6 separate regions of the Homo sapiens genome follow, and regions 2, 3, 4, 5 and 6 are each linked to region 1. Evidence: fine-mapped expression QTL. A gene starts in region 1. Each other region holds a variant in brackets. All regions are shown on one strand. Distances are from middle to middle.

Region 1 (5,205 bases):
CCGTTTAAATGTGCTTTAATATACAGGTTTCCCATTCCAGAATCTCCCTAATATTGCCTCTCGTTGCCCCCAACACGCCCCTTCAATGTGCAAGGCAGCACATACTACAGGTGCTAGATAATTTATTTAGACTTTCCTTTCAGTTTCCCCCACCTTCTTATGTGCTTCCCTAAATCACAAACACCAGTTTCTTTATATATTTTTTTTCTCCCTCTTCCTATTCTCACATATTACAGATTTTGGCATATATATTCCCCTTGGACATTTGAATTAGCTGCAAAATAATTTAAGTACACATTGGAGTTCCTCTCTAACCAGATTTTAAGATAAAAGGCTAACTTCTCATTTTATGGAACAAGTCTCCTTCCCGCTCCCCACCTTTCTTCTTTTAAAAGAATGACTTAATCCCACTGAATTTGAAGTAAAAAGATTTTTGTCATACCTTTCTTTCAGCCTTGCTATAGTTTGTACATCAGCGTCTTTAATCAAATCTTAAGAAATCTTCTAAAAGAAAAGATGGTTGTATTGGGAAGCTTAAACTTTTAAGCCTATCTGAATTTAATTTCAGCATCAAGCTTTCCATTTTCTACTTAAGGTTTATTTATAGCTGCACTGTCACAAAAATTCCAATCAATGATTTTACCACACAAAGACTCTAAATTACCATGGCTTATAATGTTAAACTGCATAATGCAATTTTAATTTTAGCACAAATCAATACACAAATAGTAGCATGTGCCTAGTGACATACTTTTTCATATTTCTATTAGGTAAACAAGAACTCATTATGTGTACCCTGAAATAAATTTGTGATACAATTTTAAGAATAACTGGATATTGAATTTACTCAACGTAGTCTAGTCTTAAAAAGCATAATTATGAAAAACTTTAAATAGGAAACACAAAATATTTCTAAAATGCTTAATCCTAAGTAGGAAGATACAAAAAAATACACATTCCAGGCAAATTTGAGAGGCATTTAGTAGCTCTCCACTAATACTGAAAAATTATTCTCTTTATGAAGAATTTTAAATGAGTCATACTTTCCTTACTAAGTCATTGTTTCACTTACCATAAGGTGAAGAGTTAACTGTTTGCTAACTTGAAACTTTATATTCACTTAAACTGTACATCTATATATAAAGACTGGTAGAAAGTATAGTGTACTATATACAATATTTAGAACATACAGCATCATGGGCATTAAGCTCAACTGCCATTTACCTAAGAGGGTGAAAAGCTGTCATCTAAATACCTTCTAAAAACTCGGATTCCAACTTCCCAAACTCACACCAGAATGAAGCAACTTGAAATTATGCGCACTTTTTCCTGGCAGAGCTATGTTCTATGCCCAACTTTTAGTAAGTTAACATATTTCTCTCCCTTACACATCGGCCAATTATTCATTGATTCATTATGGTTCTAAATTTATAACTTTTAAATTCATAATGAAATCAATCCATGGTTAGCACAATAGTTTTCTATCTTAAAAAAGCGTTAAAAGGAAATACAGTAGTATGTACAATGGATATAGAGAACTAGGTTAGAAATCTTGAGAATTTTTCCAGGATGTGTGGGTTTTTTGTTGCTGATACTGTTGTTTGCTTTAAATGCGGGGTGGTGGGGGGTGGGGAGACGGTAAGGACCAGGAAAGAATAAATCCACAGCGCTAAATTATGGTCATCTTTTAAGAGTGTACGACTTACCCAAATTCAAAGCAAATGGACAACTTGTCAACACCTACTAATTCCATCACAATTTGTTGGGGAAAAATGGGGTGCAGAAGCAAAAAAAAAAAATTTAATGCCTTTCTTCCTCCTCCATGCCCCGAATGCCCCAACACACACGTATCTGCTTCACTCTGCGGCAGGGAAACTTAAAGAAATAAATCAGCTACAGACAAACCTGATGATCCAAGCTAGACCCAAGCAAGCTCCAGGCACCTCTGGAAGGAGCCCGCTCGCTGGGCGCTCAGGCGGCGCGGCAGCCGAGTGGCTCCCCGGCGAAGGTGCCCAACACCTGGGCGCCCAGTCCGGCGGGACCCACAGGTCTGCGGCGGGGCGGGGAGGGCCCGGGAGGAGGGACTGGGAGGGCCCGGCGGGGCAGGACCGCTAAGTGGTCCGGTCCGGGCGCACTGCGCGCCCCGCCGCGCCGCCAGGCAGCGCGCGAGCAGAAGAGGGGCGCGAGCGGGCACAAGGGAAGGACCCACGACGAAGAGGAGGGTACATGTCCACAAAATTGAGGCCGGGTACGCAGCCGAACGCTGTGGCAGATCGCTAAGGCTCCGGGAGCGGGAAGTCCTCGCGCCTTCCTCAGGAGCCCGGACGACCCCAGCCCGGCTTTGACCCCGAGACACCTGTTCCGCCGCGCCCGGGGTTTGGTTCCATCCTCCACGCTTCCCCACCAACCCGGAGAGGGGGGAGGGCGAGGGGAGACGAGACCTTGGACCCGTAGCCTGAGGGCGCCTCCGCCGGCCATACCTGACATCAGCTGCGGCTCCCTCTCGCCCCTCCTGGGGGGCGGAGAGGGGGACGACTTGGGACTGGTGACCTTTGCTTCTCTGGGCAGCCGCAGAAGTGGCTCGTGGCCGCTAGCCGAGGCCGCCCGCTGCCGCCCAGATTATTCCCCGGCAGCGGCAGCACAGCGGCGGCGGCCAAGGCGGGCCCAGCGCGCGCTCCCGCCCGCTCGCTCCGCCCCTCCCCGCAGCGCGTCCAGGCCGTGGCCCGCCTATGGCGCAGCCGCCACCCGAAGTCTCCTGGCGCTGACGTCTCCGCCGCCGCACCAGCCCCAGGGAAGGGCGGAGCGGGAGGGGCGGTGGGCGGGGATACGGCGACGTGAGGAAGCGGGGATTGGCTGCCGGGTGCACGCTCCGCCCTAATGCGAAGGGGTCTGGGAAGTCGGATCTTGCACGAGCAGTAGATTTTGTTGTATCCCCCTTGCGGCTTGTGTCTGCTACTCTCCGCATTTCTGATCCTGCTGTAAGGTTATGCACTAGCTTCAAGACCTTGAGCGGGACGAAAGCAGGGTAACAATAGGGAGCGAGAAAGGGGATGCTTGAAGGACCTTTGTCTGAGGTACAGGCTCTAACCCTGCAGGACTCTTGTGGCCTGTAGCCTGCTCTTAACCCGTTCATTTGTTTTTCTGTTCTCTCCCCGTGCTCTCTTTACTCAGTATCTCTCTGGGCTTAATAAAAGGAAGTAATAAGATGAAGTATGCATACGGGTGCTGGGTCATCATGTGAGAACCAGGAAGAGCTGAGAACCGAGATAATGATACCAGAAAGCTTTCTATAGGCACATTTCGTCTTTGGTTCTGTCAGCACTTCGGTTCTGTGGGGCAATGGCCGGAAGAGCTTCTTAGGGGCGTAACAAAACCTATCTCCCCTTTCGCTGGGCTCTGAATAAGGAAGTTGTCTTTGGAATAGGGGGAGGAGGCTGCCACCTGTTGAGGCAACCCCACAATAGTCATGAGGTGAGGGTAAGGTTTAGTCTTTACTGGCGTTAACCATTATCTACAAGACCACGTTCCAGAATAGGAAAGCTACCCTGCTTCCTTTAAATGCCCTATCCAAGCGGTTCTTTAGTACTCTACAGCATGGTTGTTAAAGAGTATGGGCTCTGAAATCAGACTGCCCGGGCTGGCATCTTGGTCCCTCCACCTATTGGCAAGTTACTTAGAATGCCTGAGACAAATAATAATATACATTAGTTATTGTTATTTTTCCTTTAATTTGCTTAGGTTCAGCTGTAGTGTAGTTTCTCAGGACATTGCATCAATATATCCAAAAGAATTGTGAAACATAAAGCACATGTAGTGATTCTAATACAGATGTCTCATTTTTCAGATGACAAAACTAAGGCCAGAAAGATAAACTGATAGGTCCATGTTAGAAGAGAAGTGCAGCTATCCTGATGTCCAGGTTATTGCTCTTTCCTTGGCTCATGGGTCCAGACTTCTCTGCCTTACATGATTACGTCCATTCTCTACTCCTCCCCAACTTGTATACAGTTGTTGCTCAGCCTCCTCCCCCTCCACCTTTCCGCAATATCCTTCCACCTTTCCGCAATATCCTTCCACCTTTCCGCAACATCCTTCCACCTTTCCGCAATGTCTTGCCATCCATTGTGAAACATGGAAGGAGAACTCTTTCAGGGGTCAGTGTTCCAAATAGAAACCAAAACTCACAACTCCTTATCTCGTTTTAATTTTATTAAAAGTTATAATTAATAAAGAATAACACTTTTTTCCATTGAGCAAAGATTAGAACCCTTTCCTAAAATAAGGTCAGCCACAGCCTTATCCTGGAAAATTACTTGCTAGAAACAATACTGGACCAAATCAGCCCTGCCCCCACCCTGCCTTTCTTTGAAAATAGCTTTTTTTTTTTTTTGAAGAGATATGGTCTTTCTATGTTGCCCAGGCTGGAATGCAGTGGCTATTCACAGGTGTGATCTTGGCACACAACAGCCTCGAATAACTGGGCTGAAGGCTGAAGCAATCTTCCCGCCTTAGCCTCCCCAGTAGTTGGGATTACAGGCACAGGCTGTGGCACCCAGCTAATAACTATTGTTTTATAAAAACAATACATGCTTATGCAAACAAATTTAAAAAATTTAAACAAAAATGCAAAGAAGTTAAAATCTGTCCAAATACCATAATATAGAGATAACCATTTCTTAAATTTTGTGTTACATTCTTCTAGGCATCTCTCTAAGAATAAAAGCACATATAGACATATAAATACAATATTTCATAAATTGGATCGTATTATCTGCACAGTGAACAACAGTCATGAATAACATCATTTTTAAAAGTTGCATACTGTCTGTTAAATGGATATACCATCATTTATCCAACCAGTATTCTATTGATTGACATTTATGTTTCCAAGTTTTTACTACCATAAAAAAAGTCTCTGATGAACATTCTTATCCATAGGCTTTTGCACAATTGTGCAATTATCTCCTTGAACACATTCCTAGAAGTGACATTAATGTCAGCCAATTCTTCGACATTTTCAATTAGAGAATAAAAATTGTGGTTACTTTGAAAAATATACTTTATATGTGGGACTCAAAACTGACCAGATTCTCCCATTTGAAACATACTTGAAACACACATAAACCTCAGTATTGTTGTTTCTCTTGTGTCTAGTGTTTAATAATGCATGTCAAAACTCGTTGGAGTAGGTCGGTAGACATTACT
Region 2 (5,205 bases), 46 kb before region 1:
TAAAGTGCTAAAAGAACAGAACTACCAACCTAGCATTCTGTATCCAGCAAAAATGTCCTTCAAGAATGAGCCTTAAAAACATGTTCAGAAAAACAAAACCTAAGTGAATTTATCACTAACAGTTCTATTTCTAATTCTTCAGGCAGAAGGAAAAGAATTTCAGATAAAAATTCAGAGATGTAGGAAGGAAGGGAGAGTCATAAAAAGGGTATGTATGTAAGTAAATCCAAATAAATATTGGCTATAATAAAACATTTTTTGAAAGTCTCACAAGATATTAGTATTATTACCATTAAAACAAATTACAAAACTGGCATCAAAAAGTATAAGGAGGATCCATAGAGTTTAAGAGCTCTAAAGTCATTTCACTGTCCAGGAGTTGTTTAAAAAAAAAAAACTGATTAATAATAGCCTTTAAAAGACCAAGGATGTCTAATATAATCTTTAAACAAACAAACAGTAAAACAATATAATTAAATTCAAATACAAAAAAATGAAATGGGAAAATACCCCAAATCAAGGCAATGTTAAAAAAAAAAAAAAAAAGGGAATATAGAATAGATGAGACAAATAGAAAATAAATAGTAAGGTGGTTGATTTAGAACCAAACATATCAATGATTATATTAAAAGCAAATAGACTAAAAACTACAATTAAAAAATAAAGATTGCCAGCCAGACTCGAGAAAAATAAACTCATCTACATGCAGCTTACAAGAGACACATATTAAATAGATTTATAAAGTTGAAAGCAAAATAATAGAAAAATATACCATACAAACAGTAATTAAAGGAAAGCTTATTGATACCACAAAAAAAACTAGTAGTTACATGGCTTGTTCTCTGTGACATTCATTAAGCTCTACATTTATGATTTTACATACTTTTCTGTATTAACATTTATTTCAGTAAAAAGTGTATACAAAAACCCATTCATGTGTCTTTATCCCATTAAGTACATACTTAATATATTCATATTTGATATAAAAATATCCCAAAATCTACAAGTAAAATTGACATGCCATGACAACACACCATGCTTATGCTGCATTATATATCTTATATTTCAGGCTCTCTCCTGAATTGTAATTCCAGTTTGGGAAGAAAAACCCTAAGAGGAAGAGGAGAGGTGAAGGAACAGCACAGTATAAGCAAAGCTGCCCAGTATCTTGAGATGTAAATTAACCATCTGAAACTATCAGATACATGTTTACACCTTTTGCTCTATCCTGACTGTACCTTCAAGTTCAGAAAGGTAGGCCTTCATGGATGATGAGTACATAGCCCCACTCAACGATCCTTCTCTCTACACCCAATCAAATTTGCCACAGGAAAACCAGAAACAAGTTTACCATGTCTTTCTGCTGTTTTCTCTGATGAGGGGGTCTCAAATTCTGCCTCCCTACTGCCCCCTTTCCCTCATTCAGGTTGGCCGTTAGTGTAATCTTTATATCCAAAAGATACAATAAAACATATCCCTCCTGTCTTAAGTGATTGTTCTGAAATTCTAAATATCTCGATTGTCTGAGGACCAGTTCATTAGACCTTGCTCTAACCAGAAATCTTGGTTTGAAATTTCATTCAAACAGCCAGAGAGAACTGATTAGTCAAGTATCTGTTCGATATTATACAAGTCCTTCCTTTAGCAGTATACATGATCAAGACAATCTACAATAGAGGTATGTGATATGAAAGTACCATGAATTGAAAACATGAAGCCAAGAGAAGTAAATGAAAGATGTTTTAACTCTTAATTTCTTATGGAGGAAGACAAGCAGAATACGATTGAAGCAGTGAACCTGGAGCATTAGCAGATACTGAGTTGTCACTCTCTACATCCTCTGATTCTCTCACTAACACTTTGCCTTACAGCACACTGATCTTGGTTTTCCATTGCTTTTTGTCCTAGCTGTGATTTTGCCTTAATACCATACACAGCCACTTCACCATCTCAGAAAAGAACAAAGACAGTATTTTACTGCTGCAGAGTCTACCGCTCCTGGCACTGGAGAAGAAAGCAGTAGTCACAATGCCATTCAGTACCACTTAGGCAGAAAGCACTGTGACTGAGAAGAGGAAGGACTGCAGGACCAGAGAAAATTCCTATTTCTATCATCATATGGATATCTGAAGTTAAAGAAGTGCTAACCCAGCTCCATCAACTATGAATACTAACATGCTACTCAATCATATTCCAAGGACATGCTGAGCTTCAGAACAAGCCTACTTCTATAACACAAAAACAGTTACTGTTTGTGGAAAGCTACTGAAGTACTTATGG[A/T]CACAGTTTTTCTTAGCTGAAGAGGCACTTTTTAAGCAAGGCATCTATCCTGGAGTGAATGTAAGGAAAACTGACTTCTTGGTGTTACGTAATTGTTTTTAACTTTAAAATGTTTTGTGATGCTGTCTGATGCCTGTCATACTCTCTTACTCTTCTCCCCCAGAGTATCAGCACACTCAGAATGTGTTGGCTCCTCTTGTGTTGTGTTTACCACATTCCCTTCCAATTTAAAGGACTCCGGCCTTATGACTAAATAACTGTAAACTCCCATTTTTTTTTTTCCTGCTCCTGGGATAAAATAGCCATCTCATGGGGGTAGAATGCATCCCAAAGCTCACTCAGATTTTTGGCAAAAATCATGTCCACAAGAGTGTTGAGGTAGACTAGACTGGAAAAAGACACAGCTTAACCACACTGCACATTATGAGGGCTTAAATACTATTTCTTTGAATTGGGTGGGGGAAGTTCTTTATGCCAAGTGCTTCCAAACCTGATGTGTAATCAGAATCGCTTGAGGATATTTTAAAAGTACAGATTTCCAAGCTTGACAACTGAGGTTTCAGATACAAAAGAACTCCCGGGACAACTAAAATTTATATTTTAATTTTATTTTTAAAGGGACAGCTTTATGCTATTCATTGTTAAAAAAGGATTTAGAAGGAAGAAATCATCACAAGTCCTACTACCCAGAAACAACAATTATTAATATTTTGTGATTATCATTACAGGTTTCTCTCTAGCAATAACAAAAATAGGAGAGGTAATTACAGTTAACATTTGAACCCTGTACTAAGAGCATCTGCAAACTATAAAGTACGGACTAGTATTCCCATTTACAGATGAATTCAGACACAGAGAGTCACACTAGCAATCTGAATCAGGAATTCAGACTCTTAACCACTTTGCTATTATGTCTTAGTCCATTTTCTGGTATTTATAACAGAACAACTGAAACTGGGTAATTTATAAAGAGAAAGCATTTATTTCTTACAGTTACGGAGGCTAGAAAGTCCAAGGCCAAAGGGGGCACATCTGGTAAGAGCCTTCTTGCTGTTGAGGACTCTCCTCTGAAGAGTCTTGAGGTGGCACAGAGCATCACATGGCATGAGGGATACGCATGCTAACGTGTTAGCTTAGGTTTGTTCCTCTTCCCTTTTTTTTTTTTTTTTGAGACGGAGTCTCGCTCTGTTGCCCAGGCTGGAGTGCAGTGGCGGGATCTCGGCTCACTGCAAGCTCCGCCTCCCGGGTTCACGCCATTCTCCTGCCTCAGCCTCCCAAGTAGCTGGGACTACAGGCGCCCGCCACTACGCCCGGCTAATTTTTTGTGTTTTTAGTAGAGACGGGGTTTCACCGTTTTAGCCGGGATGGTCTCGATCTCCCGACCTCGTGATCCGCCCGCCTCGGCCTCCCAAAGTGCTGGGATTACAGGCGTGAGCCACCGCGCCCGGCCTTCCCTTTCTTTATAAAGCCAAAACAGTTCCCTTCCCATGATAACCCATTAAGTTATTAACCCATTAATGGATTAAACCATTCATGAGGGCAGAGGTCTGTCTCATAAACCAATCACTTCCTTAAAGGCCTTGTTAATATTGCCAAACTGGGAATTAAATTTCAACATGAGTTTTAGAGGGGACAAATATTCAAACCATAACCCTACAGTTTTACAGAATGGGAATTATATTAGTCATCTCGTTTTTAAAGAATTAACATATTAGATTTATTTGAATTTATAGGAAATAAAGGAATCTAAAAAATCTGAATGTCACCTAGACATCTGTAATATGACCCCCATCCTCTAAAGGATCCCTCTAAAAATTAAGAAAAGTTTACAAAAAAACAGAAAGGAGTTGGAGGGCTCATTAAATAAGCTCAATTTTAGGCACTATCTATTGATTTCTTGCTGTGAAATGTGGAAATCAGCATGGATACACACATGTACAAATATATATATACACATATACATACACACACACTCCCTCTGCCACAACCAATTTTTGTTAACTGCTTTTATTTGGTAAAAATGTACATAGTTTACATTATATGAATTATGAACTGTAATTCCATGACTGCTTAATCCTGGATCTACATTAAACTAGATTCCATGCTCAACAAGAGTCCTTTTTAATCACAACTCCTCTAAATTTGAGTTTTTCATTAATATCATGTTTTTGTTAGCTGGGTTTCAGCAAGCAGTTTTTTTTAATGGCGCTAATCGGTGCCACATCTGAAATTCTTGCAGGCTTCAGAATGTCTGCTATTGCACAAACTTTCTTCTCCCTAAGAACTTTGTAAATATTACTCCATGGTCTTCTTACATGGGTGCCAGAGAATTCTGAGGATACAGCCTTTAACCTCTTCTCTTATGCTTGGTTTTCAGCCACTCCACCAGTTCAAGAATATTCTTTCACCAAGATTTTAATGCCCTTTACCATGAGCGCACGTCTTCTTCCTTTCAGGCTTTCGGGAAGTCAGTGAGTGTAATTCACAATAAAGCCCTGAAATTCTAGTTATTTTTTTTTTTAAATTTTAACACTTTATACCACATTTTGCCAAGGTGACAATCAGGTACTTCTAATTTTGCTCTGGATTATGGCATTCATTTGCTGCATTTATGTATTCAAAATATATTCCCTCTTCTAACCATATTAAAATAATTTTTGATACATCTTTATATTTTCCCAAAAGATTTTCCTTATGAAAGTGATATAAATCTTACAGTCACACACCTTACATTTACAAATATAGTACATGTGAGGTACCATGTTAGAAATTTTTATGTTTTTTTCTGATGCTCACAGCAACCTGAAAACTCGATAGCAGTATCCCTTTCATATTACAGATGAAGAAACTGAGTATGAGACAGGTTAATTAAATGGACCCAAACCAGCCAGCCAACATGGTAAATTGGAATTTTCACCCCCATTT
Region 3 (5,205 bases), 85 kb before region 1:
CTCATGCCTGTAATCCCAGCACTTTGGGAGGCCAAGGCAGGTGGATCACGAGGCCAGGAGTTCGAGACCAGCCTGACCAACATGGTGAAACCGCATCTCTACTAAAAATAGAAAAATTAGCTGGGTGTGGTGGTATGTGCCTGTAATCCCAGCTACTCAGGAGGCTGAGGCAGTAGAATCGCTTGCACCCGGGAGGCAGAGGTTGCAGTGAGCAAAGATCGCGCCACTGTACTCCAGCCTGGGTGACAGAGCGAGACTCCGTCTGAAAAAAAAAAAAAAAAAAAAAAAAAAAAAAAATTTAATATCAGAGTTTCAATGTTTGAAGTAACAAGGTACACAGTTCATTCACACGGCAGTCAGCGCGTTCCATCCCTACTTGCCAATGTAAGAGTGAAGCTGGAAACACCACAGGAGTTACTGGGGAATAAGAGGCTGTCAGTCCCCACAGTGTAAGGAGCCTTCTGGGATCTTGCAGTTGCCATTGGTTGAACACCCCCTCATATGTTCAAAGCCTTGTGCTGCAGGCTATGGACAGCCCTGCGTGAAGCACACAGCTGGGTTTCCCCATCAAGGAGCAAAGAAGCCCCCAGTTCTCTGAGACTCACCATCTATATAGTGTGAGGAATAAACAAAACTTGTGGTTGGGAAATAGAATAATGTTATATTTTCCCATAAATTCTTCCAAAAGTGAATTGCCACTTGCAACTCAGCAGGAAAAATGTCAGTATTAGTGTTGGGCAAGGGACTAATCCAGATTCAATAAAAAGTCTTCATTATAAGACATTTCCTCTCAGGTGAATAACTAGTCCTTTTCATGTTGGAACAGTTACAGAAACTGAATTTTTTTAGTTTATAAAAATTTTGCCTTAAGGTAAGCAACACCTGTTTAGTGAATCTTGAAAAAATAGTCTTTTATTTATTTATATATTTAATGAAATGCCAATTCTTTTTGCAAAGCAAACTGGGATATGAAGATAAAAGGGTAAAAAAAAAAGTTCTTTGATGCATTGTCATAGTGAATGCATATTGAATCTCTCTATATTAGTGACTGTGCAGTATATAATATGCAATATCAGTTACACATCTCCATCTGAAGGAAATTAAATCCTAATTATACAAGAGGAACCCACAAAGTTCACTTTTTCCTTTTAAATGGCAGAATGTTGTTCACTGAGAGGAAATAGTTACTTCTCTGTTCCATGTAATTTTCATAGAACAGATGTGTCTGAGGCTGGTTTTTAAAGAGTGTAGCAGGCATTGTTGGGAATAAATCTGGGGAAAAGTGCACAGGACTAAATTTGGAGAGAGCTGCTTAGCCCTGTGACCTTTACAAAACTATGTCACTGTTCTGTGTTTTGTCTGAGAAAATGAGCTAGCGATAATATCCCAGGTGCCTCACAAGACACACATTCCTAAAGGTAAGGGGTCTTCTGGGTCTTCTGGGATCTTGTAGTTGACATTGGTTGAATACTACCTATGTTCAAAGCATTGTGCTGCAGGCTATGGGTAAGCCAATGAACAAAAGGGACCCAGCTACTGTCCTTAGGGAGCCCACACACAACTTTCTATGCATGGAATCACTTCCAAAATGAGAACTATCAGAGATGACTCAGGGTTATGGTAAAGGTAAAAGACACACTAAATGGAAAATCTGGAAGCTTCTTTAGACAAACAGATTGTGTCTCTATATATATCTAGATTATTAAAGTGTGCTCTGATACAGAGTTAACATATTTCTGAAAAGTTGTGTAAACTGATTGTGGTGAGCATTTTCAGAAACCCCCGAGCTCCCATCCCATCCTTTGTCCTTTGGAATTAATGTGAAAAATGAGCACTATCTTGGCTTTCCTTTCTCTTCTCCCATTTCTCCCCATATACCTATTATTTCTGATTTATTTGTATAATAAATACGGGCTTTAAAGATTGGGTTTTTTTTTTTTTCTTAACAAAAAGCTTGTAGACATGTTTTCTTCAAGTTATTTTCTTAGTTATTATTTTCTGCTATGTCTAATACCAATATTGCCGCAGGGAGTGTGTAAAAAGGGAGGAATGCAGATGTTTTTCTATTTGTTTTTACTATCATAGAGTGGAAAAAACATGGACCAGTTAGAAGCAGCTTCATCACTATCTGTGTAGGTGACCCTAGAATGTGGGTGACTTAGACTTCAGTGCACAAAGAATTGGATGGTTGTTAATGCAAATAACCCAGTCCTCAACACCAGAAATTCTTTCTTGCGTTTAAAAGTAGTCCTGTACACAGTTAGAAATGCTTTCAGCTACAAGTAGTAAAACAGTAAATAATAATATTTCACATAATAAATCTCTTAATAATGGTTCTAGGGTTGATGCACCTCAACAATGTCATCAGTGTCCCTGGTTCTTTCTTTTTGTCCTACCTTCTCAACATGTTAGCATTTCATCCAGTCATCTCAACTTATGGCCACAGATAACTGCTGCTCCCGGTGACACAGTCTCTCACATGCTCAAGGAATGGCACCAGACAGCTCTCCTGTGTACTTTTATCTTTTTTCAGAAGCAAAAGCTTTCCCAAGAACTCCCCACTCCTGGTGGAGTCTCCTTATATGTTTCTGGCTGATTCTAGCTGCAGAGAGATGGGAAATGTATTAGGGTTCTCCAGAGAAACCAGTAGGATGGAGATATATATAAAGAAAATAAGATTTAATATGATAAATT[A/G]GTCATGCAGTTATGAAGGCTAAGAAGTAAGTCCCACAATCTGCCATCTGCAAGCTGGAGACCCAAGAAAGCAGGTGGTGGTGTTATAAGAAAGGGGTCCTGATCCAGACCCCAAGAGAGTGTTCTTGGATCTCCCACAAGAAAGAATTTGGGGCAAGTCCATAGAGTAAAGTGAAAGCAAGTAAGTTATTAAGAAAGTAAAGAAATAAAGAATGGCTACTCCATAAGCAGAGCAGCAGCATGGGCTGCTCTGCTGCTTATACTTATTGTGGCTTCTTGATTATATGCTAAACAAGGGATGGATTATTCATGAGTTTTCTGGGAAAGGGGTGGGCAATTCCCAGAACTGACGGTTTCTCCCCTTTTTAGACCATATAGGGTGAATTCCTGACATTGCCATGGCATCTATAAACTGTCACGTCCCTGGTAGGAGTGTCTTTAGCATGCTAATGCATTATAATTGGCATATAATGAGCAGTGAGGACGACCAGAGGTCACTCTTGTCGTCATCTTGGTTCTGGTCGGTTTTGCCCAGTTTCTTTACTGTGACCTATTTTATCAGCAAGATCTTTATGACCTGTATCTTGTGCTGACCTCTTATCTTATCCTGTGACTTAGAACACCTAACCTCCTGGGAATGCGGCCCAGCAGGTCTCAGCCTTATTTTACCTAGCCCCTATGCAAGATGGAGTCACTCTGGTTCAAATGCCTCTGACAGTGTAATTCAGTCCAAGTCCAAAGGCCTGAGAACCAGAGGAGTTGATGGTGTAAATCCCAGTCTAAGGACTAGAGATGATGAGATGACCCAGGTCAAGGGGTGAGGCAGGAAAAAGAGGGCAAATTCCTCCTTCCTCCACCTTTTGTTCTATTGAGACCCTCAGTAGATTAGATGATGCCTACCCATGTCGGGGAGGGCAACCTACTAAGTCTGTTGATTCAAATGCTAATGTTATTTGGGAACACTCTCACAGAGACGCTTGGAAATAATATTTAATCTGGGAACCCCATGGCCAGTCAAGTTGCTCCACGAAATTAACCTTCACAGGATGGTATTGGGAAAGAGAAATGTGATAACATGACTAGAGCTGAAAATTGAGAACCCCCTCTGGCCAGGCACGTAGCCATCTGAGCACACCTGAGGTCCTGCTGTAAGTGAAGTAGCAGAGGATGGCTGTTAGGGACACAACATCAGCGGTTACCACCACCCTGAGGGCAACTGATGCTGGTGTCCATTAACCACACTTTATACCACTGGTTGCCAAACATCTGGGTTAAATCAGAATCATCCAAGAGCTTTAATAAGTGCAAGAGGTCTGGGCCTCCCTGATTCAGTGGGTCAGGGTTGAGGCCTCAGCATCCTGACTCTCTAAAAGCTCATTAGCTTAAAAACAAAACAAAGCAAAATAAACAAAACTCAGGTGATGCGGTGATTCTGGTGCACAGCTGGGATTGAGAACTTACTGGTCCAATCATTTAATTTCTCCGAACAGCAGTTAGAAGCCCATGGAGATAACACTGGGATAATAATAGTGTTCGTCCCAGAGGGTAGGTGTGAGGTATAAATGGTTTGGTATACATAAAGTTGAAGCTCAAGCCGGCACATAATAGTTTTGGATCTCAGTCCGCCTTCCCCTTATGCCAGATGCCAGATGGTTTTAGAGGCAGATTCCAGTTTCTTCCAAAGAAAGTGTTTTTTCAAAAATAGTGACAAGTAGACTTGTTTGTCTTGGCTACTGTACTAGTTCCCTATTGCTGCAGCAACAAATTACCACAAACTTAGCAGCTTAAAATGACACCAGTTCATCATCTCACGCTTTTGTAGGTTACAACTCCAGGCAGGCTAGGTTGGGTTCTATACTCAAGAGTCTCACAGGCCAAAGTCAAAGTGTTGTCAGGGCTTTTCCCTGGAGGCTTGGGTAAGAATCCACTTCCAAGCTCATTGAGAATATTGGCAGAATTCCACCCTTGTGGTTTTAAGACTGAAGTCCCTGCTTTCTTGCTGGATGTCAGCTGGGGTCCTCTCTGCTCCTAGAGGCCATCCACATTCCTTCTCATATGGTCCCCTCGATGTTCAAAGCAGCAACTCTTTAACTTCCTCTTCTGCCCCTCTTTGGAAAAGCTAATTTTACAGGCTTATGCGATTACACTAGGCCCGTGCAGGCAATCTCCTTATTTTAAGGTTAATTGTACCTTATAACATAATCATAGAAGTGATATCTCAATCTTCACAGGTTCTGAGGATTAGGATGGGACGTCCCTCAGGGCATTTTCAGAAATTCTGCCTACCATAGCTGTCTGTCCACTTTGCTGTTCAGCAACCCTTTCCCCAGAGGCTCTCATCCAGCCTTCAATCTTATCAGCTGGTATTTAGCAATCTCCAGGTGAAGTGTTAGCATCTATCATGTCTTTCACTGCAGCTCCATGTAGGTATAATCATTTCCTATGTTGGGCGAAAACCAAGGCAGGAATGACGGCAATTTCACTTGCTGCATTTGTGGGTCCCATGGACAT
Region 4 (5,205 bases), 23 kb after region 1:
TCAGCCCTCTTTCTGACCTCTTTATGACTGTCTTTGCCTTAAGGTAAACTTCAATAGAATCTTCTGCACTTGCACACATATTTTAAGGATACTTGAAATAGCACCTACCATAGAAAATATGGAAAGTATTCATGTTTTCCTATATTTCTAATTTTTTTAATACCATTGTGACACAATCTGATAGAGTATGAAGTATTAGAAAACATGTATTTTAATCCTGGCTCTACTATTTACTAACTACTATCTACTATTTTCTGAGCCTCATGGTCCTCAACTTTGTAAAAGGAAGATGATGATGCCTGTCTTTTCTAGTGGTTGTGCTGGTTAAAGGGGAGGATGTTTGCAAAGGGTCTAACATGTAGTAAGTATTCAATAAATGGTAGTTATTTTTATCAGCAACTCTTATAATAAAAAGTGGACTGACAAAAATTTTAAAACTAAGTATCTTTTTAACAAGTACTTCATTTATTGCCACATTTTTTAGTCCCTTGGCAACAAATTTTGGCTAGCAAATGTAAAGTTATTCACTGTAAATATGTTTATACTAAAATGTTAGTGATTTTCATCCAAGGGGCAATTACCTTTAAAGTAAAGAAGTTAGACTAAGTGAGTTGTAAGGTTTTTTTTCCCACTGTTAAAGCCTCACAAGTTTATAGATTTGGATGATCTCCCCAAAATAGAAGCAAACGTTTCTGAGAATTTGAGTCTGTCTTTGGTAAGGATGGTTACATGTCAATAGAGCTATGGTTCCAAGTCCTCTTGACAAGTAGTTTACTTGCAAACTATTCAGTTTGTCTTAGTCTGTCATATCATTGTGCAAAATACATGTCAGTACACAAGTAGTCAGTAATTTTGTGTAGTAATGACTACACAAGTAGTCATTATTATAAACTGGAAGTTACTGCCTATTATTCTGTCTTAGATTTCAGTTGCATAAATTCTATTTAAGTTGATTGTAAATTATGGCTCATTGTTTTCTCTCAATACTCATTACTTCTGCTGATTAGTACTGTGTTTGTGTGTATAGTTCTAAGGTTTTTTTCAGCTATAGTTCCAAGTCCTCTTGACCAGTAGTCTACTGGCAAATAATTCAGACAGCTTTCCCTCTGTCATCTGTTAACATTAGTCCTGGGGACTGGTTTCTCTGATAAAATTCCTGCAGCTACTTCATACCTTTGGACATGTACTTCGACACACGCCCTCTATTTCATCTTTTGTGTACCCAGGAATGAGTTGCATGTATGTGTCCATCCTTTGGAACCAACCTTACTTCTGTCTTGAACTGAACTTGACTTCTCTTTTACTGAATGGATTTAGGTTAGCAGACACATAGACAATTTTTATTTTCCTCCCCTTCTAAATATCTGTCTCTGCATCTATCTTCCTACTTCCTAAGAAGAGCAGTGTAGCCTCCTTTCTCATGAGAAACAGGGTAACATTTTGTCTTCCCGCCTGTTCTACATCAACTGCTTAATATATGTATTAGAACACTGTCAATCAAGGTAACATTATCTGTCCCCTTGTACATCAGACTTTTGTCAAGGATATACCTGATTAGTCAAATGGCAGGGATTAGGGGTTGGAGGTAGAAGGTGGAGGTTCAAGAGAGAAATAACACTCTATACAGTTGAAGACCAAAAAGATCTAGATGGAAGGTAAAGGTCATATGCAGAAATGGAATAGAAAGAATTTTCCAGAGTTGAGAAGAAACAGATCTCTAGTTCCATGAGGCTATTGGAACGTGTACCCAATATAAAATGTGGAAAGGTACTAGGGACAAGAAGGACACACATGTGGGGCAGGAAAGAGCTGAGGGAAAGAGTAAGAATCAGGAAATTTAACTAGTTTTACTTATGTATGAACAGCCGTTCACAGTGTTGCTGCCATTGATCTTTGAAGTGCAGACATATCCCTCAATTTATGAACATGGATTGGTGCAAAGCTCCCTAGGATGTGAGAAAGGAAATGAAAAGAGATGCTGTGCTCCAGTTTACCAAGCTCGGAGCTGATAGCTGAAAGGCCAGTTCCCTTTTCTTCCATTACATGTTAAGTATGTTTTTATGAACTGTAGTGATACTCTGTGTAACAGTGTTTCTATAGGAAAATGCCCTCTTTGAATTGAATCACATTAAAATGAATTTTTTGAATATAGCTTACATGGAGACAGAGAATTTTTTTAACTTTGCTAACATTATCTAAAGATTGCAGATAAAGAAAATCTACGTGTAAAAATAGTGACTTTCCAAAGGCATTACTATCAAATTAAGCGAAAATTAGAATTCATACACCTTCATTTAGTCTGTAAGAGTCCTGTTTCTATTGAGCCTCTGGGGAACCTTTTGCCTTGAAGAGATTATTGGGGAAAGGGGACAAGAAGGAAGGAAACAAATCAGCGCAGTCCAACACACCACTTTCTTTCCTTTCTCTTTCTCTTCCGCTTTGCATTTCTATTTCTGTTCCACTCTATTTCCTCCTCCCCCTCCTCTTCCTGTTTTCTTTCTTTCCTTCTTTTTCTTTGCTTCCTAGTCTTTTACTGCTCTTGGTATTTGTCC[C/T]GCGTCTTTCCAATCTCTTCCTTTTTATTTTTTAGTTCTACTTTTTATATCTGACCCTCCTAGTAGAGAAAAGGTGGTCAATATTACAGTCGTTCAAAAATAAAAATTAAGTACTTAACTCTTTCTGGCTCTGTGCCAAGCATTGTAAAAAGAAAATTACATAGACAGTTTCTGACCTCCAAAAGCATACAATCATTTGAGTCCCAGCTGTGATTTTATAACACCTTCATGATTCTTGACTTTTTTTTCCTGTTTCTAAGTCCCATTAAAAATCTGGTGATAGCAATGAATTGCTTCACTCCAAAAATGCATAAGTCACAAACATGCCCTATTTGCATATAATTTCAGAAGATTCAAAAACTCCCTGAACCCCTTAATAGTTTATGACCGCCCTCAGATCAAGAACCCTGCTCGTTGTCTCAATATATTTCACAAATGTCACACAGTTTGAGATAGAATGCCTTAAAACACAGTTAATTTTAATTCATTAAGAAAATCAATAGGCCGTCTAACAGCCATTTTGTGTGTTTGGGTAGGCAAAAAGGGAAAGAAATGTTATCTAATTACAAGTAGGTCATAACATTATCCAAAAGGAACAAACACTTATTTGACCACCTATTACATGTCATATATGCGTATATGAGTCCTACATGATACAGCTTTTATAAAATTATAGATGAAATATATATGTATATATACATATACATGCATACATATATAAATAGATACATGTGTATATACCTGTACATTTATACAAATGTTTATATAATATATAAATATATAAAAATGTATGTGTATATAATATGTAAAATATAATGAAAAAACATACTAAGTGTTTACAATAGCTATGTTATATAGGAATCGTTATACTCAGATATGGAAATTAAGACTCAGAGAGATCAAACAGCTGACTCGGGCCACGTGCTAGTGAACAGTAGAATCAGAATTTGAGTCCACATCAAACTCCAATGCCTTCTTGGAGACTTATTTTTCCTTTCTATTCAACATAAAACTCAGCACATAGGAGGTGTTAATGGAATACTGGAATGCTGATTGAATTAGACAGAACAGAGTCAGGTATAGAGCCCTGCAGTAGATCACTGGAGACTAGAGACCACTCTTCCTAACCCCACCCTAACCTCCCATTTAATTTCTTTTCTTTAGCAGAAAGGAAGGGACATTCTAACAGGTTCTAAAGACTAGAGTGGACTCTACAAAACTTCAGAGGGATATAGTAATTTTACTGTATTCATCAGAGAAATATTTCAGCTGTGGTCATGTGAGGGTAACAGGCTTGAATACACCAATTTTCATGTGAAAGGAATGTACTGCTAAGTTAATGCAACAGCAACTTGAGGAAACTACTTTTGATTTAGCAAGTTATCTGAACATTAAAGGAGGCATTCTGACTGAGGTTCCTGAAATATAAAGAACAATTTGAAACATGCCTGGGAGGAAAATACAGCAATTTTAGCAAAAAGACAGTTCTCAAATAAAGTCTGATTTTAAAGGAAAAGAGATCTCATTGATTGAAGGAATTGTTCAGAATGTACATGTACATACCCTTACTGAGGCTAGCTAATGAAGAAACTGAAATTTGAAGTTTGGTGGTAAAGAAAATGAAAGCAATATAAGAATGTTGGCAACTGTGAGATAGAGGTTGATTATACTTCAAAAGAGTATCTTTAGGGAAGCTAATAGACACCTAACTAAGTTGAACAGAAACTATATTGAAATAAATATAATCTTAGAAGCCAGTCAAGACAGTAGAGCAACACGGAATCAGTGCCTTGATTGATAGATTCATGATTTAAAAATAAACCCATCTTGACTTCAAGTCAGGGCAAGGTTATGGTGTACAGTTTCTTAATTTCCCCAAATCCATTCCTAAAAGCATACTGAACCAACTAGAATAGCAAAAGATAAGTTCTACTCACCACATCCTCCAGAAAGCCAACTGAAAAAACATCCCCATGAGCCTCAGAATGCCAGTGGGTTTTGCCCCACCCAAACCACAGACAACAGCAGTAGAACTCATACAGAGCATGCCTAGTTTTAGCAGCTGTGCAGAGGCAGTGGACAGGAGAGAACAAGAGTTTAGAAGGTTCTGCGAACACTGCAATACAGAAATTGTCCACAAATACTCAAAAAGAGAAGGTCTTACCTTGAGTGGGATTCTCAGCAAGTAAATATTGTGAAAATAACAGTAAAAAGGAGAAGGCTTCTGACTCCAATTTATGGCTGAGTAGAATAAAAATATCTCAGCCACACACTAAGAGAAAATGGGAAGATCAGAAGGTACTGGGTGGCTTATGTACTCAAATAACTCAGAAATAGCCAATAAAATATCTTTCCTGAGGAAAACACTTCCGTGAAGAAAATTCAAATTGAGCAGGATAGAAACTCTGAGAGTAAATCCAATATTTTGACGACCTTACAATGCCTTTGTTGTTTGTTGAGAGAAAAAGATCAAACACTGGGAGGTCAGGTGGGTCTCCAGAGAAGGCACATCTCTGGAAGTGGGTGTGACGACACAAAGGCCATCCACGTCTACATGTGTATCTTAATCTGTCTGCTATGTGATAATAATAGGGGAGGAATCTCTTAAGCACTGAAACTATAAAGGCTATCATAGCATATCCCATTTCCCTTC
Region 5 (4,565 bases), 57 kb before region 1:
TTCAAGTGCTCAATAACCACACATACTTAGTGGCTACTATACTGTCCAGTGCATATTAAACTTAAGGACTAGACCAGTAATAGTTATAAATTGCTGACCTCTGGAAGCAATTTTTATATTCTGTAAAATAATATTTTTGATAAGATTTACTGCATTAATTATATTGCTCTTATTTATTTATATTTTACTGGATGGCCAGGATTCTGTTAAGCATTTATGCAATAAAAGACAATAAAAGTAAAAAGCTATAATTATTAGAAAACAAGAGCTAGCAGACAATTATGGTTACCCAAAAAAACTCAAGAATCTCAAGTGAAGAATCATCAGAAATAGAGAATTCAGTTACAAAGCCAGATTTTAAAGATGCTTAAAAAGAAAATCAAACAAATAAGTTTTCATATATATCAGTAAAAAGTTAAGTCTTTAAAAGCCCAAGTAGAACAGTAACAAAAATATTGCATACCTATGGAAATAGTTTATAAAACTTGACCAAAGGACCTAAAAGGTGACTTACAAAAAATCCTGGGCAAAGATGTTATTGTCCCTAAATTAATGAGTTTGTATGCAAAGATAAAGAAATGAGTTGCCAAAACACTTAGAAAAAAAGAAGAGTTAATTTGCCCTTAGAATAGTAACTTAAAACTGCTGTAAAGCTACAAGGTTCAAAACAATATGGTGCTGGGCCAAAATCAAATGAGAACAATGGCATAGAAATGAAATCCCAGATTTAGATCCTACTATAAGTAAGGTTACAGTGTATGATAAGGGGGACATTTTAAATCAGTAATGAGTTAAAAAATGGTAGTAGAATAATTAGTTAACAATTTAAAAAAATCAGGAGCTCTCTACCTCACTTATGTACTAATATGTTTCAGATAGAATAATGTAAATAAAACTGAATAAAGTAGATCATATTTGACCATTTCTGACCTACAGAAAAGTCAATTTTTCATGTAGAGAGATATATATGTAAACAATTACACATATATTTTAAATCTACCATATTAAGACTCACTGCAACTTCTCTGGTGAAAAGTCTATTACTAAGAAGGTGGAGTGGGAAGGGAACTGCTTAAGAGTCAGTTCTGAACAAGAAATTTAGGAATGTAACTCTTTCATGAATTAGAATATCTTTTACCCTGACTTGCTAGATAAAAATTTTCTGTATTTTCAGTAATTAGTATATAGAAAAAAAAAGTATGTATAAGATTTAAACTCATTTAGGGGGAAGAAAACTTACTAAATGATAGATGGATAATAATAGAATTTTAGTTTCACGTTGGGTTTATGTAAGAATCTCCTGAGGGAGAACAGGCAATGTCAGATTGATGGGTCAATTTTGGTACTCTGAATTCTAATTCTGTTTTATGGTCTTCAACATAATTTGATAAATTTCTAGAGAAAGAACAAATTTGCCAATTATGATGTCCCTTTGCTACTACTGTATGTGTATCCAACATCAGATACTCTTAGTAAGATCTTATATGCATTTGGATGTATTTGCTACATGTTTATATTCTTGAATTTGGGTAAATTTTTTATATGGGAAAAGGATACAGAATTAAGGAAAAAAGATCAAGTCATCTTGGAATGGTCAAAATATATTAAGAAAAGTTTACATCAAAAAAGCATCCAAAGTAGTACTCTCACTAAAATAGAAAAACAGACTATCAAAAGTTTCCTTTTAAAGCTGATTACCTAAAGCTTGGGTCAGATGTTCTAGGCCAGGGTCTCTGAACCATGGTACTACTGACATTTTGGGCTAGAGTAATTCTTTGTTGTAGGAGGCTGTCCTGTGCATTTTAGGATGTTTAGCATTTAGTAGGTTTATAATGTAGTGGGTTTCTACCCATTAGATGCCAGTAGCAGCCTCCTAGCTGTAACAACCAAAAATGTCTCCAGACCTTGCCAAATGTCCTCTGGGGGCAAAATTGCCCTGGGTTGAGAATCACTGTTCCAGATGATGATTTGAAAGCATTGCCTTATGAAGATGACAGTAGTAGCATGAAGTGTATTATTTATACGTTAGGTCCACAGAAAAGAAGGCATAGAGAACTAGTGACTTGCCTAAAGGCATTATTAGTAACAGAACTGAGCCTAAAAGCTAGGTTCCATGATTCCTGGTCTCATTCAGTTATTCACTGAAGCAATGCTTATAATAGTGAACACAGCAGACATGTAATTAACATTGATAAATCTCAATGTTGTGTGAAAAGGGCAAGTTGTAGAAAGATATTTATTTAAAAATCTGAAAAACAATACTATAGCATTTTCTTCTTTAAATAACTGAAACAAATGTGGCAAAAAGATTAATATTTGGTAAAGAC[AGG/G]GGATAAGTACAATGTATATTCTGAAATATTTGTACTACTGGAATACTTCCTAAAATAATGCACTTTAGATAAAATTCTCAGGAATGTGAGCCAAGGCTTATTAAATGCTTACTGTGTGAAGGGCTGTACTATGTTGTAATTACAACAACTAAATAAGACAGGTACATTATGTCCATCTTACAAATGAGGAAACTGAAGCTCAGATGTCATCCAAGGCTCCTGTCCATCCAAGGTTGTTCGGCTATTAAGTGAGAGAGCAGGATTTGACTCTAGGTCTTTCTGAACCTCCATTAAATCCTCCTGATGACTAGAAGGCTCTTTACCCAGATCTTCACCCAACTTGCTCTCTAATAACACTCAGGGTTCTGCTCAAAAGTCACCTCTTTGAGAGGCCTTCTTAATCACCCAAACCAGAGGACTCCATCCCACTCTGGGTCACTCTCCATCCCCTTACTTGGCTTATTTTTCTTCAGGGCACTTACTACTAAAATCCTATTTTATATTTACAAGTCTGCCTGTTTACTGTATATCTCCTCATCCAGAATGTAAGGTTCACGAGAACTGGAAATTGGCTGTGATTTACTTCTACATTCTCAGTGCCTGGCATATAACAGCATCAATAGCTATTTGCTAAGTGACTACTGCTGATTGCTGATGTCCCTGTTCTCATCTATTTTGTTATACTGCCACTCTATTTAAAAAGACTAAGGAAGAGTCCTTGTTGTTGGTACTAAAGAAACATACACATATTAACATGTTTTTATCAACAAAATTCAGTCAGTCCAAGTATTGACATAGTAATAAAATTTCTAAACTTACCTCTACAGGAGGATAATAGTTGTAATTCCAGTACCAAAACGTTCTAGGTAGATAACCTTTAATTAAATGGTGTTCTGGCACAAAGGGATGAAAAGTTTCTTTTCCAATGGTATCTCTGGAATCTCCTGCTTCTACATTCATAATTTCCATGCATCTCCCCAGTGCTAAGTCTTCAATGGAGGAACTATGTGTACACTTGTCTGTTTTAAATGCATCAACAAATCTTTTCAAGGCTTCTTTGCTTAGTACATATCCTGCTCCTCCACTCATGTAGCCCTGCTTTACATAAGGCTTAAATCTTCTCCCAAAGTAAATGGGTTCTTCAGGGTCGTATTTTGAAAGAAGCCACCTCAAATTGTCTAGTATGACATACGTGTCATCATCTGCTTTCAAAAACCAATCAGCATCTTCTAAATAATGTTCATGAACATACTGAAAAGCTTTAATTGTTTTCCAGTATAGTTGATCTCTGCCTTCTTTGGTTTTCAGTCCCACAGCAGGGAAGTCTTTATTTTCTTCTGAACTCATAAACAACACTTTGTTACAACGCTGGGCCCAAGTAGCTTTGACGTGTTTGGCCTTTTTCTCTAGGTTTTGAGGGCCGGTCATAACCCAGCAAAGAATTCTAACTTTCTGATAGAGGTTTTCAGCAATGTCTGTGTTCTCATCTATTAAACAAAACATTTTAAAAGGTTATTTACATAGATGTAAAATCCAAATATTAATAAATTATACTGAAGAAAGCACTGTCCTAATTTCAAAGTCCCTATTTATCCCTCTATTAGTGATTTAGCCAAAGGAAAGCAAACTCATCCTAATGTGAACTGACACTCTGATTTATTGGTTTCATGTCAGTGTTATCTAGGACATCACTGGAGCTAGTAAGAGTTGACATTATAATCTAAATTCGTCTCAAACTGTAGTTTACTGATTAAAAGCAGCAGCATCACCTGGGAGCCTGTTAGAAATGCATAATCTTAGGCCCAGACCTACTGACTCAGAATCAGCATTTTAATAAGTTCTCCTGGTGCTTCATAGGCATGCTAAATGCTGCCTTAAATAGTCTCTGCTTGGCACTTCATAAAAGAAAGCAGCCAGTTTTTAATAGATTACTGACAGAAATTTCTCACTGCTCTGAACGAGTTTCTGAAGAGCAGGAAAGACATGCTGCTGAAGTGGCAGTTCATTTTTGAAGTTCACAATAATCCACTATTAAGAATTTCTACAAGTACCCTGAGGTGGTAAAAGGTCAAAGCACAGGAGTTGAGATTACTTTCTGATAGTCACATACCTCATTCCAAAATGTAAATCCACCAATCAAAAACAGAAGAGAACAATGGTAGACATGGGAATTCCAAGATGGTCTAGAGCAGTGCTCTTTAAACTACAGGTTTGCAAAGAAATAAGGAGCTTATA
Region 6 (5,205 bases), 40 kb after region 1:
TCTGCATTTCCAACTGAGGTACCTGGTTCATCTCACTGGGACTGGTTGGACAGTGGGTGCAGCCCACAGAGGCGAGCCGAAGCAGAGCGGGGCATCACCTCACCTGGGAAGCACAAGGGGTTGGGGGATTTCCCTTTCCTAGCCAAGGGAAGCCGTGACAGACTCTACCGGGAAAATTGGACACTGCCACCCAAATACTGCACTTTTCCAATGGTCTTAGCAAATGGCACACCAGGAGATTATATCCTGTGCCTGGTTCAGTGGGTCCCACACCCACAGAGCCTTGCTCACTGCTAGCACAGCAGTCTGAGATGAAACTGCAAGGAGGCAGCCTGGCTGGGGGAGGGGCAGCCACCATTGCTGAGGATTGAATAGGTAAACAAAGCAGCTGGAAAGCTCGAACTGGGTGGAGCCCACTGCAGCTCAACAAGGCCTACCTGCCTCTGTAGACTCCACCTCTGGGGCAGGGCATAGCTGAAAAAAAGACAGCAGAAACTTCTGCAGACTTAAACGTCCCTGTCTGACAGCTCTGAAGAGAGCAGTGCTTCTCTCAGCACAGTGTTTGAGCTCTGAGAATGGACAGACTGCATCCTCAAGTGGGTCCCTGAACCCTGTATAGCCTAACTGGGAGACACCTCCCAGTAAGGGCTGACTGACACCTCATACAGCCAAGTGCCCCTCACAGACAAAGCTTCCAGAGGAAGGATCAGGCAGCAATATTTGCTGTCCTGCAATATTGCTGTTCTGTGGCCTCTGCTGATGATACCCAGGCAAACAGGGTCTGGAGTGGACCTCCAGCATACTCCAACAGACGTGCAGCTGAGGGACGTGACTGTTAGAAGGAAAACTAACAAACAGAAAGGAATAGCATCAACATCAACAAAAAGGACATCTGCACCGAAACCCCATTTGTAGGTCACCATCATCAAAGACCAAAGGTAGATAAAACCACAAAGATGGGGAGAATCCAGAGCAGAAAAGCTGAAAATTCTAAAAACCAGAGCACCTCTTTTCCTCCAAAGGATCGCAGCTCCTCACCAGCAATGGAACAAAGCTGGATGGAGAATGACTTTGACGAATTTACAGAATTAAGCTTCAGAAGGTCGGTAATAACAAACTTCTCCAAGCTAAAGGAGGATGCTTGAACCCATTGCAAGGAAGCTAAAAACCTTGAAAAAAGATTAGACAAATGGCTAACTAGAATAAACAGTATGGAGAAGTCCTTAAATGACCTGATGGAGCTGAAAACAATGGCACGAGAACTATGTGATGTAGGCATAAGCTTCAGTAGTTGATTTGATCAAGTGGATGAAAGGGTATCAGTGATTGAGATCAAATTAATGAAATGAAGTGAGAAGAGAAGTTTAGAGAAAAACAAGTAAAAAGAAATGAAAAAAGCCTCCAAGAAATATGGGACTATGTGAAAAGACCAAATCTATGTTTGATTGGTGTACCTGAAAGTGACAGGGAGAATGGAACCATGCTGGAAAACACTTTTCAGGATATTATCCAGGAGAACTTCTCCAACCTAGCAAGGCAGGCCAATATTCAAATACAGGAAATACAGAGAACATCACAAAGATACTTCTTGAGAAGAGCAACCCCAAGACACATAATTGTCAGATTCACCAAGGTTGAAATGAAGGAAAAAATGTTAAAGACAGCCAGAGAGAAAGGTCAGGTTACCCACAAAGGGAAGCCCATCAGACTAACAGCAGATCTCTTGGCAGCAACCCTACAAGCCAAAAGAGAGTGGGGGACAATATTCTACATTCTTAAAGAAAACTATTTTCAATCCAGAATTTCATATCCAGCCAAACTAAGCTTCATAAGTGAAGGAGAAATAAAATCCTTTACACACAAGCAAATGCTGAGAGATTTTGTCATCACTAGGCCTCCTTACAAGAGCTCCTGAAGGAAGCACTAAACATGGAAAGGAACAACCAGTACCAGCCACTGCAAAAAAGCCCAGTTGTAAAGACCATCAATGCTAGGAAGAAACTGCATCAACTAATGGGTAAAATAACCAGCTAACATCATAATGACAGGATCAAATTCACACATAACAATATTAACCTTAAATGTAAATGGGCTAAATTCTCCAATTAAAAGACACAGACTGACAAATTAGATAAAGAGTCAAGACCCATCAGCGTGCTGTATTCTGGAGACCCATCTCACATGCAGAGACACACATAGGCTGAAAATAAAGGGATGGAGAA[A/G]GATCTACCAAGCAAAAAGAAAGCAAAAAAAAAAAAAAAAAAAAAAAAGCAGGGGTTGCAATCCTAGTTTCCGATAAAACAGACTTTAAACCAACAAAGATCCAAAGAGACAAAGAAGGCCATTACATAATGGTAAAGGGATCAATTCAACAAGAAGAGCTAACTATCCTAAATATATATGCACCCAATACAGGAGCACCCAGATTCATAAAGCAAGTCCTTAGAGACCTACAAAGAGACTTAGATGCCCACACAATAATAATAGCAGACTTTAACACCCCACTGTTAATATTAGACAGATCAATGAGACAGAAGGTTAACAGGGATATCCAGGACTTGAACTCAGCTCTGCACCAAGTGGACCTAATAGACATCTACAGAACTCTCCACCCCAAATCAACAGAATATACATTCTTCTCAGCACCACATCACACTTATTCCAAAACTTACCACATAGTTGGAAGTAAAGCACTCCTCAGCAAATGTAAAAGAACAGAAGTCACAACAAACTGTCTCTCAGACCACAGTGCAATGAAATTAGAACTCAGGATTAAGAAACTCACTCAAAACCGCACAACTACATGGAAACTGAACAACCTGCTCCTGAATGACTACTGGGTAAATAATGAAATGAAGGCAGAGATAAAGATGTTCTTTGAAACCAATGAGAAAAAAGACACAACGTACCAGAATGTCTGGGACACATTTAAAGCAGTGTGTAGAGGGAAATTTATAGGACTAAATGCCCATAAGAGAAAGCAGGAAAGATCTAAAATTGACACCCTAACATCACAGTTAAAAGAACTAGAGAAGCAAGAGCAAACAAATTCAAAAGCTAGCAGAAGTCAAAAAATAGGTAAGATCAGAGCAGAACTGAAGGAGATAGAGAGAGAAAAAACTCCTCAAAAAAATCAATCAATCCAGGAGCTGGTTTTTTGAAAAGATCAACAAAATTAATAGACCACTAGCAAGACTAATAAAGAAGAGAGAAGAATCAAATAGAGGCAATAAAAAGTGATAATGGGGATATCACCACTGATCTCACAGAAATAGAAACTACCATCAGAGAATATTATAAACACCTCTACACAAATAAACTAGAAAATCTAGAAGAAATGGATAAATTCCTGGACACATACACCCTCCCAAGACTAAACCAGGAAGAAGTTGAATCTCTGAATAGACCAATAACAGGCTCTGAAATTGAGGCAATAATTAATAGCCTATGAACCAAAACAAGTCCAGGACCAGATGGATTCACTGCCGAATTCTACCAGAGGTACAAAAAGGAGCTGAAACTATTCCAATCAATAGAAACAGAGGGAATCCTCCCTAACTCATTTTATGAGGCCAGCATCATCCTGATACCAAAGCCTGGCAGAGACACAACAAAGAAAGAGAATTTTAGACCAATATCCCTGATGAACATCGATGTGAAAATCCTCAATAAAATACTGACAAACTGAATCCAGCAGCACATCAAAAAGCTTATCCACCAAGATCAAGTTGGCTTCATCCCTGGGATGCAAGCCTGGTTCAACATATGCAAATTAATAAACGTAATCCATCACATAAACAGAACCAAAGACAAAAACCACATGATTATCTCAATAGATGCAGAAAAGGCCTTCGACAAAATTCAACAGCCCTTCATGCTAAAAAAACTCTCAATAAACTAGGTATTGATGGAACATATCTCAAAATAATAAGAGATATTTATGACAAACCCACAGCCAATATCACACTGAATGGGCAAAAACTGGAAGCATTCCCTTTGAAAATTGGCACAAGACAGGGATGTCCTCTCTCACCACTCCTATTCAACATAGTGTTGGAAGTTCTGGCCAGGGCAATCAGGCAAGAGAAAGAAAAAAAGGGTATTCAATTAGGAAAAGAGGAAGTCAAATTGTCCCTGTTTGCAAATGACATGATTGTATATTTAGAAACCCCCATTCTCTCAGCCCAAAATCTCCTTAAGCTGATAAGCAACTTCAGCAAAGTCTCAGGATACAAAATCAATGTGCAAAAATCACAAGCATTCCTATACACCAATAACAGACAAACAGAGAGCTAAATCATGAGTGAACTCCCATTCACAATTGCTTCAAAGAGAATAAAATACCTAGGAATCCAACTTACAAGGGATGTGAAGGACCTCTTCAAGGAGAACTAGAAACCACTCCTCAGCAATATAAAAGAAGACACAAACAAATGGAAGAACATTCCATGCTCATGGATAGGAAGAATCAATATCGTGAAAATGGATGTGCTGTCCAATGTAATTTATAGATTCAATGCCATCCCCATCAAGCCTACCAATGACTTTCTTCACAGAATTGGAAAAAACTTTAAAGTTCATATGGAACCAAAAAAGAGCCCGCATCGCCAAGACAATCCTAAGCCAAAAGAACAAAGCTAGAGGCATCACACTACCTGACTTCAAACTATACTGCAAGGCTACATTAACGAAAACATCATGGTACTGGTACCACAACAGAGATATAGACCAAGGGAACAGAACAGAGGCCTCAGAAATAACATCACACATCTACAACTATCTGATCTTTGACAAACCTGACAAAAACAAGAAATGGGGAAAGGATTCTCTATTTAATAAATGATGCTGGGAAAACTGGCTAGCCATATGTAGAAAGCTGAAACTGGATCCCTTCCTTACACCTTATACAAAAATTAATTCAAGATGGATTAAGGACTTAAATGTTAGACCTAAAACCAGAAAAACCCTAGAAGAAAACCTAGGCAATACCATTCAGGCCATAGGCATGGGCAAGGACTTCATGACTAAAACACCAAAAGCAATGGCAACAAAAGTCAAAATAGACAAATGGGATCTAATTAAACTCAAGAGCTTCTGCACAGTGAAAGAAACTACCATCAGAGTGAACAGGCAACCTACAGAATGGGAGAAAATGTTTGCAATCTACCCATCTGACAAAGGGCTAATATCCAGAATCTACAAAGA

Evidence for each region. PIP is the estimated chance that this variant, and not a neighbour inherited with it, causes the effect. A credible set is the group of variants that fine-mapping cannot tell apart.
Region 2: its variant is the best candidate, but not a certain one, in a credible set for the expression of C1GALT1 in whole blood (INTERVAL, PIP 0.69).
Region 3: its variant is the best candidate, but not a certain one, in a credible set for the expression of C1GALT1 in whole blood (INTERVAL, PIP 0.57).
Region 4: its variant is the best candidate, but not a certain one, in a credible set for the expression of C1GALT1 in T cells (TOPMed, PIP 0.71).
Region 5: its variant is the best candidate, but not a certain one, in a credible set for the expression of C1GALT1 in anterior cingulate cortex (GTEx, PIP 0.72).
Region 6: its variant is the best candidate, but not a certain one, in a credible set for the expression of C1GALT1 in testis (GTEx, PIP 0.53).

The regions. Positions count from the first base shown.
Region 1 is chr7:7,180,096-7,185,300 of GRCh38, reverse strand. C1GALT1 (core 1 synthase, glycoprotein-N-acetylgalactosamine 3-beta-galactosyltransferase 1) reads right to left here and starts at 2,757. Exons shown (of 4, transcript NM_020156.5): 1 at 2,481-2,757. RefSeq lists silencers at 1,968-2,187, 2,408-3,017.
Region 2 is chr7:7,225,964-7,231,168 of GRCh38, reverse strand. The region is part of intron 1 of C1GALT1 (core 1 synthase, glycoprotein-N-acetylgalactosamine 3-beta-galactosyltransferase 1); the gene reads right to left. Among named protein-coding and RNA genes, the nearest start is that of LINC03016, 27 kb to the left of the region's middle. The variant A/T (reference allele first, on the strand shown) is at 2,281.
Region 3 is chr7:7,264,634-7,269,838 of GRCh38, reverse strand. It overlaps LINC03016 (long intergenic non-protein coding RNA 3016), which reads right to left. Exons shown (of 4, transcript NR_108073.1): 3 at 2,397-2,602. Among named protein-coding and RNA genes, the nearest start is that of LINC03016, 12 kb to the right of the region's middle. The variant A/G (reference allele first, on the strand shown) is at 2,695.
Region 4 is chr7:7,156,711-7,161,915 of GRCh38, reverse strand. It overlaps a transcript of C1GALT1 not described here. Among named protein-coding and RNA genes, the nearest start is that of C1GALT1, 23 kb to the left of the region's middle. The variant C/T (reference allele first, on the strand shown) is at 2,553.
Region 5 is chr7:7,237,507-7,242,071 of GRCh38, reverse strand. C1GALT1 (core 1 synthase, glycoprotein-N-acetylgalactosamine 3-beta-galactosyltransferase 1) reads right to left here. Exons shown (of 4, transcript NM_020156.5): 3 at 3,150-3,817. Among named protein-coding and RNA genes, the nearest start is that of LINC03016, 15 kb to the left of the region's middle. The variant AGG/G (reference allele first, on the strand shown) is at 2,328.
Region 6 is chr7:7,140,475-7,145,679 of GRCh38, reverse strand. No RefSeq gene overlaps it. Among named protein-coding and RNA genes, the nearest start is that of C1GALT1, 39 kb to the left of the region's middle. The variant A/G (reference allele first, on the strand shown) is at 2,223.